Linked DNA regions of Homo sapiens: region 2 is linked to region 1. The links come from fine-mapping of genetic effects on gene expression. A gene starts in region 1. The other region holds a variant in brackets. All regions are shown on one strand. Distances are from middle to middle.

Region 1 (5,370 bases):
CCCAGCACTTTGGGAGGCCAAGGCGGGCGGATCATGAGGTCAGGAGATCGAGACCCTCTTGGCTAACGCGGTGAAACCCCATCTGTACTAAAAATACAAAAAATTAGCTGGACGTGGTGGCGGGCGCCTGTAGTCCCAGCTACCTGGGAGGCTGAGGAAGGAGAATGGCGTGAACCCGGAAGGCAGAGCTTGCAGTGAGCCGAGATTGCACCACTGCAATCTCGACAATCCACTGCAATCCAGCCTGGGCGACAGAGCGAGACTCCGTCTCAGAAAAAAAAAAAAAAAAAGTTGTAGTTAATTACCAGCATTTAAAAAAACCAGAGATTTAACATAATCTGAATTTCTGGCCTCTTAATAAAAATCAGGGTCTGGTGTGGTGGCTCACGCCTATAATCCCAGCACTTTGGGAGGCCAAGGTGGGCAGATCACGAGGTTAGAAGTTCGAGACCAGTCTGGCCAACATGGTGAAACCCTGTCTCTACTAAAAATACACAAATTAGCCAGACGTGGTGGTGGGCGCCTGTAATTCCAGCTGCTTGGGAGGCAGGAGAATTGCTTGAACCAGGGAGGCGGAGGTTGCGGTGAGCTGAGATCGCACCACTGCACTCTAGCCTGGGTGACAGAGCAGGACTCAGTCTCGATAAAAAACAAACAAACAAAAAACAGAACATCTGGCAACTCTGGGTGGGTCTCCATTCACATATGGCAAAAATCAGTTGGAGCTGAGCAGTGACTGTCACCTTAGGCAGGTGTGCATACCTCAGTCTGTCACAAGCCCCATCCCTCCTTTCTATTATACCCTGCCAACCTCACTTAGTACATGACTACCCGGCCACGTCGGTATTAAAGTTTGTGATCCTTCAGCTAGTCTTATGCCCTCTTAGTTACTGAGGTTAGAGTCACTCCCTCTTAGTTACTGAGATCATGTACTAACGCTCATGCAGTAAGTGGAAGATGCTGGGTAAGAACCTTCCCGATCTTGGAAATAGTACCATTACTCCACAGTGGCTCAAGCTAAACACCTAGGAGATTTTCTTCTTTCATCCCTTTACGTCAACCCCTGTCATAGTCTATTTTGTGCCAATATAACAGAATATCACAGACTGGGTAATTTATAAGGAACAACAATTTATTTAGCTCATGGCTCTGGAGGCTGGGAAGTCCAAGATTGAGGGGCTGCATCTGGTAAGGGCCTTCATGCTGAGTCACCCCATGGCACAAGGCAGAACAAGAGAGCAGCAGAGGGGTGGGGAGAGGGCCACTCCTGGCATTAATGGAATCACCTCTTAAAGGTCCCACCTCTCAACACTGTTGCATTGGGGATTAAGTTTCCAAGATATGAACTTTGGGGAACATATTTAAACCATAGCATCCCCTAAATCCAGCCTAATCCATCATCAAGCCTTCCTGTGCTACTTTTGACACACATTGCAGGAGGTCCACCTTTTCCGTATCTTGCTGTCACCACCCTGGTCTTCATCACCATAATCTCTTGCCTGAATTGTTCCCTCCAGATTGATATGACAAAGCCCTGACCCTCACGGTGGCCTACAAGGTTCTGGGTGATGGTGATTCCACACTAGTCTACCTCTCTGGCTGTAACCCACTCTCCCCTTGCTCACCTCACTCAGCCACCCTGGGGGCCAGTTCCAGCTTCAGAACCATGCATCGGCCGACCCCTCTGTCAGCAATGCTCTTGCTTCAGCCCTGGAATCGTTTTTGTCCTCCAAGTATCCAATATCACAAGCGGCCCGGAGACCACCCTAGGTATAGCAGTCCTAGACCCCTTTCTTTTTCTTTTCTTTTTTTTGGAGACGGCATCTAGCTCTGTTGCCCAGGCTGGAGTGCAGTGGCTCTAACTCGGCTTACTGTAACTTCCACCTCCCGGGTCCAAGCAATTCTGCCTCAGCCTCCCGAGTAGCTAGGACTACAGGTGAGGGCCACCATGCCCAGCTAATTTTTGTATTTTTAGTAGAGACGGGGTTTTATCATCTTGGCCAGGCTGGTCTTGAACTCCCGACCTCGTGATTCACCTGCCTCGGCCTCCCAAAGTGCTGGGATTACAGGCGTGAGCCACAGGCACCCAGCCGACATTCTCTTGTTTTTTTCGTTTGTTGTATATAACCTACCCCCACCTCCACCCCATGCAAAGTCCACGAGGACGATAGACTTTGTCTTGTTCCCTGTTGCATCCTGGCCCTAGGGCCTAGCCCACAACCTGGGACATTTCCTGACAAGGGGCCCTGGTTTCTCTGAGGTGCCACCTGAGGTCCGGGAGGTCAGCTGACTTTCCCAAAGGTGGATTCCAAGGACACTGCATTCTTCGCACTCCCCGAGGGGCGTCTAGACACTCCTGGGACCCAGAATTATTAGCTAACTGGGCTCCTGAGTCCGGTGAGAGCTCAGAGTCTAGAAGCAACTTTCCCTGCCTGGAGAGGTGAACCCAGCAAGGCGTTGGGGAGAGGCGTGGGCGAGGGAGTGGGCGCGGGTGGGCGGGGCCGTCCGGGGGCCTCGTTGCCCGAGCCAATGGGGCGCCGCGGCGCGGGGAGGCCGGGCCGCCGGGCGGGGGCGCTCGCGCGCGTTGAGGGGCAGAGGCTGAGCTCCCGGGACCCGGAGCGGATCGACTGGCGGGCGCCGCGCCGAGGCACCACCGGGCGCCGAGTTCCTGGCGGCTCGCACGGTAAGCGGCGCGGCGCCGCAAAGTAGACTTTGTGGGGTTTCTGACAGCCGGGAGACCCCACCTCGAGCGGGGGCTGCTGGTGCGTTCTCGCGTCGGGCTGCGTCCCCTGGAGCTCCGGCTCTGTGTCCGCGGGATGCGGGCGCACGGAGGGGCAGGGAGGGAGGCAAGGAGCCGCGCACCACGGTGTCTCCCCAGGCTGCCGCTGCCGGGGCCCTGGGCCGGTCCCTGGGACAGACAGATCGGCGTGCGGGGGCCGTCTGCCGGGCCCGGGAGCCGGGGGCGCGCAAGACTGTGGATCCTAAGACTGCCTCCACCCAGCGCCCGGCCCGGGGAAGAGCTTGCGGGAAACCAGGAACCGCAGCGGCCGGACCTCTGCTCTGCGCCGGCTCCTAGGACCTGCCTTAGGTCCCCAGACCCCTCATGACCTGTTGCCTTGGGTTTGGGAGGTCAGGTTTGTCATGCCATTTCCGATTTCCAGTCATCCTGGGGGCAGGATGAAATTTCAGAGTGGTTTCCTGGCCAAGCTAGAAGCAGAGAATAGCTATGGATACAGCACCTCGTGTATCTATCCAGCACTTACTTGGCTTTTTCTGAGTGCCAGGAACTGTGCCAAGCCCTAGCAGCATGAAGAATGGCCTTTGGGGAGCTTCTGGGGCTAAGAGGGACAGTAGGAGGAGCAATTGCAGTGCAGGGTAGTGCGGAAGACTCGAGATGGAGAAGAGGACGGTGAGGAAGCCAGGAAGGTTTCAGAGAGGAGGTGAGCATTGACTGGAAGTCGGAGGTTTTGCCAGGCTGAAAAGTGTGTTGGGACTGTGAGTTGATAGGGAGCAGGAATTCCAGGTGGGTTTTCTTGTGTAAAGGTAAAGAAACTGAAAAGGTCCGGTGTCCTGACCTAGCACATCAGATAATTCTACAGCAGATAATGGAGTAGGACCGGGTCTTGCTGTAGGTAGGAAATGAGCTCTCGACATGGCAGGAAGCTAAAACCTGCACAGACCTTAAAGTGCAGCCTTAGAATATTTAGAATTTTATCCTGGAATGAAGGAGGGCCGTGGAAGAATTCTGATCAGTGATCAGGTCCCTCTGGCAGCTCTGGGGACAATGGATGGAGGCCGGAGCATCAGAAAGCTGGTAAGTTGTAGTTGTTTTCTGGTCCTTGGCTGCAAATACTCTTCCCTGCTTAAGGGAGCCCCCTCTGCCCGGGAGCCCTGCTCCCTGGCTTCTGGACATGGATTCAGGCAAAGAGATGCTGCCCGTGTAATGCTTGCTTCTGCAGCCTGCACATCATTTTGATATTGTTTCTGGAGCCTGTGACCTCAGTCTTGTCATCAGGCCTCTGAAGGGTGCCTCTGCTCTTCTTTTCTCATCTTCAAGCCCTCTGTGTGCCCTTCCCCTCTGCCTGGGCTCCCCTTTCTGTTTCACAGAGATCCAGTCTCAGCCATTGGAGGCAAGGCTGTGTGTAGATTGGTGTAGTAGAAAGAACAAGGGCTCGCTGGGAAATCAGACCAGAAAGTCACTTTAGCCATAGGCTTTGGGGACATTAGCAACCTTCATGAACCTTCTTTTTCTGATTTAAAAGGAAATCATTGTACTCACCTGTCATGGTTTGGGTTCCCTGGAAAAAGACTTGGCGCTTCTGAGATTTTTGTGCAGATAAGGGAAGCAGAACTGGGCAGAGGGAGATGTTGATCTATGGTGCAGTGCAAGAGAGGTCTCAATCCCTCCCATGAGACAAAGAGACGAGGCCTTTGAAGCTTAATGTTGATCAGCCAGTGGGTGCAGGCTGGTCCTAGGGAGGGAGCTAGGATGTCCCTTCAGCAGGACAGTTCCTGACTAGGGACTCACCTGGGAGCTGGGGTAACCAACACTCTGGCAGCTGGACATGGGGAAGTCATGAGTGTCTTGGTCTTGGAGGGGGAGTTGAGCATTTCCCCACGGTATCCACTACACTACCTCACAAATGAAGTAGTGCTTTGTACTGTGCCTGGTGCATAGTAGATATCTTAAAAGTATTCATTTCTCTCACCTTTAAGTTTCATGACTGCACCTGAAAATGAGTTTTGGAATTCGAGTTGAGTCAGCTTTTGTGAGGAGCTTTTAATAATAATAGCCACGAAGACTACTGCTTCCCTTTTTTGAGTGTCTATTATGTATATACATTCTCTTCTAGTTGTCCAATAATACTCCAACTTAGGTACTTTTATTCTCATTTTATAGTAAACCCAGTCTCTTCCAAAACCCAACCAAGTTGATGTTCTTTTGCCACAAAATAATAATTATAATAATAACAATCACTCACAACTCTATGATTTGTTACACTTTCCAAAGTGCTTTCATTGGTGGATTGATTGATTAATCATTCATTCATCCACTAATTAATCAATCAATGTGTATTGAGTGTCTCTTAAGGAGTAGGCGCTATCCTAGGTGATGGGGAGAAAGCTCAGTCTATTAGAGGAGATAGACATTAAATGCTTGGATTCATCAAAAGCAAGTGTTGAGGGGTGGAACATTGCATTGCATAGCCAGTATGTGATAGAGAATAACAGGCTCTTTGTCCAATTGACTCCTTGCCTTCAGTTTCAATATAACCTTCTTGGAAAGGCCTTCTGTACTCCCTCCCTTTTATTCTCCCTTCGTAACAGTCATTTATCTATTTTATTTACTTTCCTATTGTTGGTCCTCCC
Region 2 (5,370 bases), 560 kb after region 1:
GAAGCCTGGCCGTCAATACCCACAACAGTTATGGAGGCAAGGGAAACAGGCCCTTGAAAAGAAGGTAATGTGGAGTGGGTAGCCTCCGTATTGATTAAGAAGGGGACGGACTTACCCTCCACCGTGAGAGTTACCTAAAGCTCGGCATCCGTGATGGTCTACGGGGCTTCTGAGGCGATCAGGCAGCATCAGTCTTCAGCCGGTAAGTCAAGAAGGAGTCAGTCAGAGAACCTTGAGCCAGAGTTCCAGGGGCTCTGGGAGTGGCTGCCAGGTGAGTTGAACAGTCCGATTTTCAGTGGGGTCCCGCACAGATGGGACGCGGCTTAGGAGGAATCCCGGGCTGCGGGCATTCCTTGGCCCAGTGGCCAGATTTCCGGCGCGTGTAGCAAGCTCCTGGGGGAGGAGGTTCCGGAGGAACGCCTGGTTGCGTTTGGAAGTTCTTGTGTGCTGGAGATGTGACTGGGGATTGTCTCACAGTGGAGGCAAGGAATTGCAACTTTTTTCTGTTATTGCACACCTTGAAGGTGAGGTTAATTAAGTCCTGTTGTGGGGTTTGAGGGCCAGATTCCAATTTTTGGAGTTTTATTTAATGTTGGGAGCAGATTGGGTAATAAAATGTATATTGAGAATAAGACGGCCTTTTGACCTTTTAGGGTCTAGGGCTGTAAAGCGTCTCAGGGTCGCTGCCAAACAAGTCATGAACTGGGCTGGATTTTTATATTTGATGAAAAAGAGCCTAAACGCTATCTGATTTGGGATAAAGAAAAAGGAGCATTAACCTTGACTATGCCTTTAGCTCTCCAGCCACCTTTTTAAGAGTAAATTGCTGGGCAGGTGGGGGAGGGCTAGTCACGGAACGAAACTGTAAGCCGGATCAGGTGTGAGGGGAGGCGATAAAAAGATTATAGGGTGGAGGAGCAGAGGCTGAGGAAGAATTGGGACCTAGCTTGGCCTGGCAAGGAGCAGGCTGGGGAGGAAGGGAGAGGTCAGATGGGTCTGTAGAAAAGGAAGATTAGAAAGACTCAGCGACGCTTGGGGTTGGGACTGAGGGGACAGGCGGGAGATTTGGGACGAGTTGCACTGGGCACAGAGACTAGGAAGGGACTGATGTGTAAAAGAATGCCTGGACGTCAGGCACCTCAGACCATTTGCCCATTTTACGACAAGAATTATTTAGATCTTGTAGGATGGAAAAATTGAAAGTGCTGTTTTCCGGCTATTTGGAACTACTGTCGAGTTTGTATTGGGGTCAAGCGGTGTTGCAGAAGAAAATGAGGCGCTTAGATTTTAGGTCAGGTGAGAATTGAAGAGGTTTTAAGTTCTTAAGAATACAGGCTAAGGGAGAAGAAGGAGGAATGGAAGGTGGAAGCTTGCCCATAGCGAAGGAGGCAAGCCCAGAGAAAAGAGTAGAGACACGCAGAAGGGGTGGGGGTTTCTTGCCCTCCAGAAAAGCAGAGAAAGTGTTGGGGCACGGAAATAAGGGATTGGGGCACAGAGATAAGAGGTTGGGGCGCGGAAATAAGGGATTGGGGCGCAGAGATGAGGTTGGGGCGCGGAAATAAGCAATTGGGGCGCAGAGATAAGAGGTTGGGGCGCGGAAATAAGCGATTGTGGCACAGAGATAAGAGGTTGGGGCGTGGAAATAAGCGATTGGGGGGTTCTTGCCCCCTAGGAAAGCGGGACTAGCAGCTAAGGGTGAAGAAGAGGTTGAGGGGTACTTGCCCCTGCCCCAGGAAAGCAGAGAAGGGGTAGAGACAAGGAGAGAAGGGGTTGGGGTACTTGCCCCTTCCCCAGAAAAGCGAGACTTGCCGCCAAGGGTGAAGGACCAAGGCAGGCGTCCGTGCGTGGTCTGACACCTTTGAAACGTGGGTGAATAATCAGAGGCGTCCCTGCAATGATTAAACACCAAGGGAAGGCTACCTTCCCAGTCCGTGACCGCCGCCGGAGTTTTGGGTCCACGGATAAAACGTGTCTCCTTTGTCTCTCCCAGAAAATGAAAGGAATTGAAATTAAGAGAAGGGAGAGATTGAAGAGTGGAAAGGAGAAAGTGGTTGAGGGACAGTGAGAGACGTTGGAGAAGAGAGTAAGAAGAGACCGCTTACCTGATTTAAAATTGGTGATATGTTCCTTGGGCTGGTCGGTCTGAGGACCTGAGGTCGTAGGTGCATCTTTCTCACGGAGCAAAGAACAGGAGGACAGGGGATTGATCTCCCAAGGGAGGTCCCCTGATCTGAGTCATGGCACCAAATTTCATGCGCGTCCGTGTGAAGAGACCACCAAA[C/T]AGGCTTTGTGTGAGCAACATGGCTGTTTATTTCACCTGGGTGCAGGCCGGATGAGTCCGAAAAGAGAGTCAGCAAAGGGAGATAGGGGTGGGGCCATTTTATAGGATTTGGGAAGGTAATGGAAAATTACAGTCAAAGGGGGTTGTTCTCTGGTGGGCAGGGGCGGGGGTCACAAGGTGCTCAGTGGGGGAGCTTCTGAGCCAGGAGAAGGAAATTCACAGGGTTAATCACTCAGTTAAGGTGGGGCAGGAACAAATCACAATGGTGGAATGTCATCAGTTAAGGCAGGGCAGGGTCTTTTCACTTCTTTTGTGATTCTTCAGTTACTTCAGGCCATCTGGGCGTATACGTGCAAGTCACAGGGGATGCGATGGCTTGGCTTGGGCTCAGAGGCCTGACAGCCCCCAAGAAGGTGAGGTGACTACAGGGCTGTGAGCTGTAGGGGAGATGCCATTGTCAGCATCGGTCAGGGAGGTTGGAGTGAGCAGACCAGGACAACTCCACAGCTTAAGCAGCAAAGGTCTGGGACCAAGGAAAGGAAGCACACAGACTGTGCTTCACACAACAAACACAGCAGAGTTCCAAACAGCACAGCCTCAGCTCGAACCAGCCCAGGAGCACACAGTGTCCTTTCAGGTTCTGCCCCTTCCAGCCCCTGAGGGCAGACTAATCTCTTATGCTTTATTCAACTTTGTAAAACACTGGTGGCTCATTTTATGTGTTTTGAATTGGTGAAAGGATGCAGGTTAGTCACGGGTTAAGCTCATTAAGTCAGCCTTGCAGATACAAGTGGTGGCTTAATTATCCTGGAGCAGAGCTCATTGCCTGAGAGCACTTTAAAAGAGTCTCCGCTTTTCCTTTATCCTAGAGGGCAAGCAAGCTGGCTGGTTACTAACTATATTGTCAAAAGCTGTCCTAGACTCACTCCTAAGTTGCTGCTGATTAACTGTTCAGTCTAATATCTGGACTCTAATAGAAGGCAGCACTTTTGGTTTGGTAGGAGACAAATTGGAAGGCTGGGCATCAAGTAAGTTAAAGTCGTCCATTTATCAAACACAATGCATAAGAGACACAGAGGCTCCCGTTTCCATGGACGAGACACGCAGCTGAAAGAGATGAGCTGTGGACACTTAGACCTTGTATTGAGATGAATTGGCAGGCCAAGAGGAAAAGAAGAAAGTGGTTGGGAAATATTTTTTGGAACTGGTGAGGCATTCCTGCAAGGGAAATCAATCTAAAACTAAACATTCTTTCCACAATGTGTGTATGAAATACACTTACTTTATTTTATAGAGATGCGGTCTTGCTATATTGCCCAGGCTGGTCTCAAACCCCTGGCCTCAAGCAATCCTCCCACCTAGGCCTCCCAAAGTGCTGGGATTACAGGTGAGAGCCACTGCACCTGGCTACACGTGTTTTAATCCTTGAAAATCCTCAATCCCTTTCATTATTTTTATACTGATTGGTCTTCCCAACTGTAATTTGTTTCCAGACTCTCATATTCTAAGTGTCTGTTCTCCACGGTCTTTCACTGAGTCTAGAGCAGAAGCAAGGTCACCATTCTTTGGCACTCAGTTAACATACTATGTTTTGCTATGGCTTAGCAGAAACTAAGTGCTGTAACCTATTGGGAATCTCAGGAGGGACTTTTTTGTGTTTTTTTTTTTTTTTGAGACGGAGTCTCACTCTGTCACCCAGGCTGGAGTGCAGTGGCGCAACCTCGGCTCACTACAAGCTCCACCTCCCGGGTTCACGCCATTCTCCTGCCTCAGCCTCCCGAGTAGCTGGAACTACAGGCGCTTGCCACCACGCCCGGCTAATTTTTTGTATTTTTAGTAGAGACAGGGTTTCACCATGTTAGCCAGGAGGGTCTTGATCTCCTGACCTCGTGATCCGCCCATCTCGGCCTTCCAAAGTGCTGGGATTACAGGTGTGAGCCACCGCGCCCGGCCAGGAGTGACATTTAAGCTAGTCAGTTTAAATCAAATCTTTGTTCTATGTGACTTACCCAGTACTTCCCAATAATCTTATCCACTCCACACCTTCTACAGTCAACTGAAGACTACCCAAAGGAGCACTGCTCATGCATATGGCACAGCAGAGCACCGGGACCTGCCCAGCTCCTCTCTGAAGCTCTGTAATCAGGCAGCTACCAAGGAAGAGTCAGACTTCAACAGTTTTTACACAAGGAATCTCAAAATCTTAAGTTGGAAGGACACCTTCCATGATTTGATTCCCAGCCACATAAAACCTGTTATCTTTCATTTATAAATGGGGGGAATGGGGCAGAGAAAGCTCCTGTTAATAAAAGAGGAGGCCACGCGCAGCGGCTCATGCCTGTAACCTCAGCACTTTGGGAGGCTGAGGTGGGCAGATCACGAGGTCAAGAGATCAAGACCATCCTGGCCAACATGGTGAAACCTCATCTCTACTAAAAATACAAAAATTAGCTGGGCATGGTGGCGGGCACCTGTAGTCCCAGCTACTCAGGAGGCTGAAGCAGGAGAATCGCTGGAACCCAGGAGGCAGAGGTCGCAGTGAGTCGAGATCGCACCACGGCACTCCAGCCTGGCGACAGAGCAAGACTCCATCTCAAAAAAAAAAAAAAAGTTGGGGGGAATAAGGGGCTACAGAAAGGCATAGGACAAATCAGTGATGTTGAACCACATCTTACTAAGATGCTTTGCTTGCTGTGGCACTCTAAACTCTCTTGCTTGCTTCCATGACAATACATCCAGGTGATCTCAGAAAATTGTGCAGTGAATAGGCTACTGTGAAACTACGACTTTCCTCTCATTATACACCAGCAATACATACAGCTCAACAGTCTCAGTTTAATGACAAGAATGTAGGATTTCACAAGCTTCTAACCATAAATTCAGCTTTTCAAGAGCAAATGCTTTGAGGATCGTCTTAAGAATTATAAAAAAACTATTGTGAGAGATCTGCAAATTTAGGTTTAGGCCACTGCTGATATCCTAAACTAAGTGAGATCTGTAATGTCTGCAAGTTAGTCAGAGGTGAGGATGGAAAGCAGCACCAGTATCCACAGGACACCAGCACCATCCATGGAGTTCTCAAGGGCCAC

Which allele goes with the higher level. Positions count from the first base shown, and alleles are read on the strand shown. Sizes are in standard deviations (SD) of each study's normalised expression.
In carriers of allele T in region 2, the expression in cerebellar hemisphere of the gene that starts at base 2,594 in region 1 tends to be higher than with C alone (moderate effect, 0.67 SD a copy in GTEx).

The links.
Region 2: its variant is fine-mapped to the expression of SYN3 in cerebellar hemisphere (GTEx, PIP 0.93).

Annotation. Positions count from the first base shown.
Region 1 is chr22:33,055,605-33,060,974 of GRCh38, reverse strand. SYN3 (synapsin III) reads left to right here and starts at 2,594. Exons shown (of 14, transcript NM_003490.4): 1 at 2,594-2,683.
Region 2 is chr22:32,500,066-32,505,435 of GRCh38, reverse strand. No RefSeq gene overlaps it. Among named protein-coding and RNA genes, the nearest start is that of FBXO7, 28 kb to the right of the region's middle. RefSeq lists enhancers at 2,530-3,216, 3,217-3,903. The variant C/T (reference allele first, on the strand shown) is at 2,282.